Homo sapiens: one gene and its partner. Each later gene encodes a partner of the first gene's protein in a complex. Each region holds a gene or a part of one and is shown in the gene's direction. Other genes may lie near its edges. The genes, in order: LDLRAP1 and AP2B1.

The links.
Region 2: the proteins of LDLRAP1 (region 1) and AP2B1 are in contact, whole or in part, in a crystal structure (PDB 2G30), measured with the Homo sapiens proteins. Residues at the interface, in NP_056442.2 of Homo sapiens: Asp253, Leu255, Asp256, Ala258, Phe259, Ser260, Leu262, Ala263, Gln264, Arg266, Thr267; in NP_001273.1 of Homo sapiens: Arg834, Gln835, Phe837, Leu838, Trp841, Glu849, Gln851, Ile876, Ala877, Arg879, Val881, Glu882, Gln884, Met886, Tyr888, Glu902, Arg904, Ser915.

The regions. Positions count from the first base shown.
Region 1 is NC_000001.11:25,541,386-25,545,297, forward strand, and holds the start of LDLRAP1 (low density lipoprotein receptor adapter protein 1), read left to right. Parts: upstream 1-2,220; 5' UTR 2,221-2,313; coding exon 2,314-2,401; intron 2,402-2,565; exon of another isoform or gene 2,566-2,956; intron 2,957-3,912. UniProt on the Homo sapiens protein: Adapter protein (clathrin-associated sorting protein (CLASP)) required for efficient endocytosis of the LDL receptor (LDLR) in polarized cells such as hepatocytes and lymphocytes, but not in non-polarized cells (fibroblasts).
Region 2 is NC_000017.11:35,590,270-35,594,181, forward strand, and holds part of AP2B1 (AP-2 complex subunit beta), read left to right. Parts: intron 1-3,738; 5' UTR 3,739-3,761; coding exon 3,762-3,798; intron 3,799-3,912. UniProt on the Homo sapiens protein: Component of the adaptor protein complex 2 (AP-2). Adaptor protein complexes function in protein transport via transport vesicles in different membrane traffic pathways.

The DNA.
Region 1 (3,912 bases):
CTGGAGAAAGGGAGAAGGGGAGGAAAGGAGGGAGGAAGGACAGGAACACTGACTGTGTTCCAACTCCATTTGGACCCCTTACTAGGCATTTGGGATTCAGAAATGAATCAGAAAAACTTCCTGCTTTTGGAGGGTACAAAGTCTAATGGAGATGAGAGGAGTATAAACAGGCAGCAGTAGTGCTTGCAATCCTGAAAGTTCAGGACTGTGGGCGCCCACAAAGAGAAACTTAATCCATGGGTGGTAGTCAGGGAAGCCTTCCTGGAGGAGGCAACTTTAAAGGTGGGTTCTCAAGAACAGGATTCAGCCATTCCAACTCCTGTTATTTAGTCCTTAAGGACAGCCCTGTGAAATAGATATAGTTGTCCCTTTTACAGATGAGGCTCAGAAGGGTGAGTTCACAACCACCAGAAGGACAGCTGGGTTCTAACCCCTGGCATTATACTCTACCCCATTGCCTATGGGCCTGAGTCTGATCCCAGTCTCTGACTCTCGGAGACTATCAGTGAATGCTTCCCTCCCTGACCTAGGGCTGTCATCTGTAAAGTGGGTCCACCTAAGCAGTGTTGCTGGGGAAGCCAAGGACAGACTGGCTAACAAAGCACTTGGTTTATAAACAGGGGAATGTCAGTGAGGCCGCCCTATCCAGCTGGGGACAGCACAGCACTATCTTTCTCCCGACACAGAGAGGACTGCTGGCTTCTGAGCCAGGAGTAATTACAGAGGTTGAAGTTGGCCTTGCCTGAGGCACCCCCTTCTAAAAGAAGCCAGGCTGTGGCTTGGATGTGTGTGTCCTCCCTCTGGCTCCTTTTGGCACAGTTTGAAAGGAAGGCATGGCATCCTAGAGAGTTAGAACAAATCCTTCCAATCCTGGAGTTAGAACATCTGTGCCTGAGCAATTCTGGGGTTCAGACTGCCCTCCGAATGCTCCTAGGAAGCAGCTTGGGGTCAGGGTCAAGGTCATGCAGATTCTTGACCCTGGCAGGTTGGAAGGATCACTAGAGATAGCATTGACTCTCATTCACAGATAAACAAGACTCAGAGAGGGGAAGTACTTGCCTGAGGTCACACAGCAAGTCAGTGTCAGGGGCACGTTCCAGATCATACCATCTGTGAGGCTACCTGGGAAGTTGCGGGGGCATGGGGTGGCCCAGCATGCTCAGGTGGTGCCAGGGAGCAGCCTGGGAGCTACGAGGATGAGTAAAGTGCCTGGCTGGACTTGCTAAAGGCAAATTTTTATATACCGACCCTGCGCCTAACAAGGGTCTATACTGCAAGCTTGTCCAACCTGTGGCCCACTGGCCATGTGAGGTCCAGGACGGCTTTGAATGGAGCCCAACACAAATTGGTAAAGGTTCTTAAAACATTATGAGATTTTTTTGGGCAGGGTGTGGTGGCTCACAGCCATCCCAGCACTTTGGGAGGCTGAGGCGGGCAGATCACTTGAGGTCAGGAGTTCGAGACCAGCCTGGCCAACATGGTAAAACTCCATCTCTATTAATAATACAAAAATTAGCCAGGCATGGTGGTGCATGCCTGTAATCCCAGCTACTCGGGAGGCTGAGGCATGAGAATAGCTTGAACCCGGGAGGTAGAGGTTGCAGTGACCCGAGATCGCACCACTGCACTCCAACCTGGGCAACAGAGTGAAACTCTGTCTCAGGGGAAAAAAAACAATACAGAAAAACAAAAAACATGAGTGTGTGTGTATATATATATATTTCAGCTCATCAGCTGTCGTTAGTGTTAGTGTATTTCATGTGTGGCCCAAGACACTTCTTCTTCCAATGTGGCCTAAGGAAGCCAAAAGTTTGGATATCCCTGGCTTACAGCCTCCACTATTTCCTAAGTCTCCCACTGCCCTGGACATCGCATTGCTTTTGTCCCTGAACAAGATCTTTCACCACTGGAGGAGCCCTCAGTCTCCCCATCTGTAAAATGGTCACTGGAAATCCTAGGCCGCTGCTCTCAGGCCCTCAGGCCCCTACGGGGTGGGGATTGGGGAAAAGGAGGAAAGCGGGGGCGTCTAGGGCTTGCGATTTGCTATCTTCTGGCGCCTTCGGGCGGCCTCGGAAACTCTTGGTGCCTGGACCTGGAGCCTGGACAGGGACCGGGCGGGGCGAGACCGGCCGTCGGGGGCGCGGCCCGTCTGGGGGCGGGGCCTGTCCTCTCTCGCCCCGCCCCGTCGGACGCCGCGGCGGAGCTGGCGCTGGGAGGGGAGGAGCGCGCAGCCCGCGCGCCGCAGGGCCGGGCGGAAAGTTTTTCCTGACGGAGTTTTGGCTGCGGCAGCGGCGGCGGCGGCCGGAGCGGGCCATGGACGCGCTCAAGTCGGCGGGGCGGGCGCTGATCCGGAGCCCCAGCTTGGCCAAGCAGAGCTGGGGGGGCGGTGGCCGGCACCGCAGTGAGTGTGCGCGCGTCAGCCGGGCCGGGCCGGGATCGGGCAGAGGCGCGCGGGGCCTCCGCGGGCGCCCGGAGTGCGGCCAAGTTGGGCAGAGGCGGGGCCTCACCGGCGCTCCGGTCCCGGCGTGGCCCTTTCCCGGCCCTGCGGGGCAGGGGGTCGGCCGGGGTCAAGTTGTGCACCTACTCGCCGGCCGCTCGATGCCGCTGCGAGGAGGGGCAGCGCTGAGGAAGGAGCCCGAGCTCGGGGTCCTCAGGTGCAGCCGGCATGGGGTGGGGTGCAGGTTGGGAGAAGAGGCCCCCGCCACCCGCGGCACCTCCCGCCCTGCTGTCCTGGCCAGCTAGGGGGAGGCAGGCGCTCGTCGTCGGTGCCTAGGGGAGGAGGAGAGGGCGCAGGGGCTTGGGAAGACGCCCCCGTCCCGCACCCCTGCGCCCCAGCCAGCAGCTGCGGCGGTCAGGAGCCCACTGGCCCGTTCTCCCGCCCCCTGCCCGACCCACCGGGCCAACTTTTGACTCCGGGTGCCCAGACACCCATCCAGGTGTGAGCCCGGGGTCGCAGGTACGTACTTGAAATTGGGAACGAGGCCCCGCCTGGGGTGCCTCGGGAGAGCCCCACATCAGGCGATCTAGACCCTTACGTCCCTTCCTCTAGCCGGGTCCAGGTGGCAAGCCTGGCGTCCCGACTATTTTTGAAACCTGTTTTCTCTCGCACCTTTCCCCTCGGGCTTCCAGAGTCCCTTGGGTGCCCAGGCAAACGACAGACTCGCCGCCACCTCTCCCTGGGGCGTCTGGGAGGCTGGGAGGGGCCTCCCCCCCTTTCTCTCCCCCAGTCTCTGATTACGCTCAGGGAACTTGTCACCTGGCACCTTCCCCTGAAGCCAGAAGACCCAGCCTAGCGCAGGTCTCGTTGTTTGGGAGGGAGAAGAGAGTGGCTTGCCTGGGGTCACACACACCTTCCTGCTGGTTTTGGAGCCAGAGCCCAGGACTGCTGCACACTCCCACCTCCCTGCCACCTACTTCGGGCCACAGCTTCTCCCCTCATCAGGAAACAACTGACAGTACAGCACCCCCTCATCCCATCCCCTCTTGGCCTTACAGGGCTCTGCCAGGGGAGCCCGAGCTCCCTGGTCCAAGGAGTGCCAGCGTGTCTGGGCCTAGAGGGCCCGCCTCCCTCCTCCTCTGGCCCCACTCTGTTGTTCAGCTGTGGCCGCCTCCCAGCTGAGACTGGCATTGGCATTGGGAATGTGGGGTGGTGCCTGCTGGTGGGGGGTGGGGTCAGAGACCCATTAGGGCTGGGCCACTAGGCCAGGGGATGTACCGTTTATCACACTGATTGCATCCCAAAATAGACCCTTTAAAAACTGGCAAGATTTGACCAGGACTTCTGAGATGGCCATCTGTTCCAGTGGGAGAATCCTGCGGGTTTTCTCCAGGAATGAGGGAGGGAGGGTGGTGGGGCAGCCCCCAGGGAAGTGGTTTTGAAGGAAGGGGGGCTGGCAAGGGAAGGGAGGCTAG
Region 2 (3,912 bases), on another chromosome or scaffold:
GGCTATGTCCATATCTAGCATGTGATTAAGTGTATCTCTCATTATATGAGGTGAGAACTCATTATATGAGAGATACACTGAATCATATATATATGTGATTTTTTTTTGAGGTGAAATTCACGTACCATAAAATTAACCAGGTTAAGGCATACAGTTCAGTGGCATTTAGTACACTGACAGTGTTGTGCAACAATCATGTCTTCTGATTTGTTTTTATTTACACTATTTTCATTTTTCTTGGAGTTTCTTTTGGCTTAAGGCAAGAACCAGCTTGGCACCATGTTTCTCTGCCAATATGGTTAGGGAATATTTTGTTACTATTGTTTACAATATGGTTACTAGAGTGATATCCCTTCTCTTTAGAGCAGCAGGGACTCTTAATTTAGAATCTATCTTATAGGCTTCTAAAGATACTTGACCCTCCTCTCTTCCCTGAAATTTTGTGGGTGGGTGCATTATTTTCTAGTTAAGACAAGAACACTTAATGCTCACAGTGAACAGGATAGTAATATATTCCTTGACATTGAAATTGTTAGGGGAGATAATGAAATATGTGAGCTACTGATAAAGGTATGACTTAAGACTTAGGTTAATTTATTGTTTAATAGAATGTAGTGAAAATGCCTGTTAAGAATTTACTCATGCCTGTAATCCCAGCACTTTGGGAGGCCGAGGTGGATGGATAACTTGATGTCAGGAGTTCCAGACCAGCCTGGCTAACAAGGAAAAACCCTGTCTCTACTAAAATACAAAAATTAGCTGGGCGTGGTAGTGGGTGCCTGTAGTCCCAGCTACTCTGAAGGCTAAGGCAGGAGAATCACTTGAACCTGGGAGGCAAAGGTTGGAGTGAGCCCAAATTGAACCACTGCACTGGAGCCTGGGCCACAGTGAGATTTTGTCTCAAAAAAAAAAAAAAAAAAAAAAGAATTTAATGGGCTGGGCACGGTGATCCCAACATGTAGTCCCAGCTACTCGGGAGGCTGAGGCAGGAGGATTGCTTGAGCCCAGAAGGCAGATGTTGCAGTGAGTCCCAGCTGGGACTACAGGCATGTGCTACCATGCCCGGCTAATTTTTGTATTTTTATTAGAGACGGAGTTTCGCCACGTTCCCCAGACTGGTCTCGATCTCCTGAGCTCAAGCCATCCGCACGCCTCGTCCTCCCAAAGTGTTGGGATTACAGGCGTGAGCCACCGTGCCTGGCCAAAAAAAATTTAATATGTGTATGTATAAGAGGCTTTTCAGAGAAATTGGGTGACAAATTCTAAGGAGGTTTTGTTTTAAAATCTTAAACAAGTTTTAAAGGACATAGCATAGCATAGTAAATATCCTAGACAGATTGTAATGGATTTGAGCTATAGTCCTTCTTTGAGGCTCAAGTAATCGTTTCTGTTTACTGGTTTTTCTGTTTGTATATATACATTCATAAATAACTTCAGATTTATTCCAGGTCTTTTATGTGAAGAATTCCTTTCTTCATTTGCCCACTTCACATTTAGTTTACATTATGAATGGACTAAATGATTATAACATTCTTTGAATTTTTGCTAGAAACACATTGTAAAAACATTGCATAAGGCAAGCTTCAGTATAATTTTTAATTATAACAAGTATTAAAGGAGAAATTTCTATATTCTGTAATGATATTTGTGAGTCCTAGCTCACTTCTTTTAACAAGATCATTCTGTGAATTTCTGGTACAATCTAAAGAGCTATTAGGATCAAGACTATAAATAGTAATTAGCTGGTTGGAAAGATAGCAAATGAGTCTAATTTCCATTAAACTGTACAAGTAGCACGTTTTAGAGATCAGATTTGAACCAGAAGTTTTTCATTATTTTATGTTTATCTGGCTCTTTTTTCTTTTCTTTAATTACATTGATTTGTTTGGTGCTTAGGTCTTTTCTCCTAGATCCATATTTACTATTGTTTGCCAAATACATTATGTCATATTGACCTGATAATAATGAGCAGGTGCCAGCATGTCTTGTCCTGAAGTTGGTGATAAGTATTATTAGTGATGGTGATAAGGAAAAAGATACTCATTTTGAGTACAGAAGGAATATTATTAAAAAATATATGTATATTTATATATTTTTTTCCCCTTGAGACAAGGTCTCTGTCGCTGAGGCTGGAGTGCAGTGGTGAGATCATAGCTCCCTGTAGCCTTGATCTCCTAAGCTCAAGCGATCCACACACCTCAGCCTCCCAAGTAGCTGAGACTACAGGTACATGCCACCATGCCTGAGCCACCGCGCCTGGCCCAAATTCCTATTTATTTATTTATTTATTTGAGATGGACTTTTGCTCTGTTGCCCAGGCTGGAGTGCAGTGGCGTGATCTCGGCTTACTGCAGCTTCCGCCTCCCAGGTCCAAGCGATTCTCCTGCCTCAGCCTCCCAAGTAGCTGGGATTAAAGGCACGTGCCACCATGCCCAGCTAAATTTTGTATTTTTAGCAGAGACAGGATTTCACCATGTTGGCGAGGCTGGTCTTGAACTCCTGACCTCAAGTGATCCACCCGGCAGCCTCACAAAGTGCTGGGATTACAGGCGTGAGCTACTGTGCCTGGCCCCAAAATTTTAATATATTTAAAGAAGTCTGGTACATTGGACAAAGTCTTATAGTTTCTCAAATCAGAAAAAGTAGTCTTATTATTTAGTAAAAATGTGACCAGACTGTGCCGTTTTTGTTAGTAGAGCCATTTGTCATCTGGATTACTTCTTCTGGAAATTGGGATGGAAGAGTTAAGGTTGAGGTTGAGATCCACGTTCTTTTGTTTCAACACCAGTTTGATTCTCGTGTCTGAACGGATGTCTCAGTCTTTTGCCTTGTTTTTAACTATAAACTGGCATTATTTGGGAATACTCTTGGGCTAAATCTGGATTGTTGGAAGTAAGAAAGCCACATTTTTTTTTAAATCCAAAAATATAGTTAGATACAATGAATAAGATCTAGTATTTGATAGCACAAAAGGGTGACTGCGGTCAACAATAATTTACTGTACATTTAAAAATAACTAAAAGAATGTAATTGAATTGTTTATAATACAAAGAAAGGATAAATGCTTGAGGTGATGGATATCCCATTTACACTAATGTAATTATTATGCATTGTCTGCCTGTTATCAAAATATCTCATGTACCTATACGCACCTACTAAATACCCACAAAACTAAAAATTAAAAAAATTCCATGCATAAGTCATGGTTGCCTCTCTAGATGTTTGTTGTGAAAGAATATTGTCCTACTAATTTTGAATTTTTTTTTTCTGAAAGAGATTCTTTTTATTGAAAGTTTCATGTCATAGATCGGCAAAATTGTTTTTTCTTTTGACCTTACACTGCTTCAGAATATATGTTTTGGAGTGATTCCAGCTTGAGGCAAGGAAGTTACCAGATTTTCCTGAATGGAAAGTAATTGCAGATATATTTATAAAAAGGTCCAGCTTTAGCTCTTGAAAGCTTTGAGGAGTTACTGTGGATAAAATCACAAAGCCATAATAGGTTCATACTTTTACCCAGTTGCATTTGGCCTTTAGATTTTTGCCCCATTAGCTTGAGGAGTTACATTCTTAGTTTTTCTTGAACCATCAACGGTGGTGATAAAGGAAGATGATACTCATTTTTAGAAATTCTTAAATATAAGTGTTCCTAAAATTAATTGGATGTTCTTAAAATTAATTGGATGCCTTGTTGGATATCTATAACCTGAATGAAGGAATTCTTTTCTCTTGCTATAGGTGCACATTAAAGATCCAAAGTCATGACTGACTCCAAGTATTTCACAACCAATAAAAAAGGTAAGTATGAGAATACAATCAAATCTTTTGAAATTTTCAAAAGTTGTAGTGTAAGATTGCCCCAGGCAGAATGCTGCTGACCTCTTCCTTCAGACATACATGTAGCTGACAATC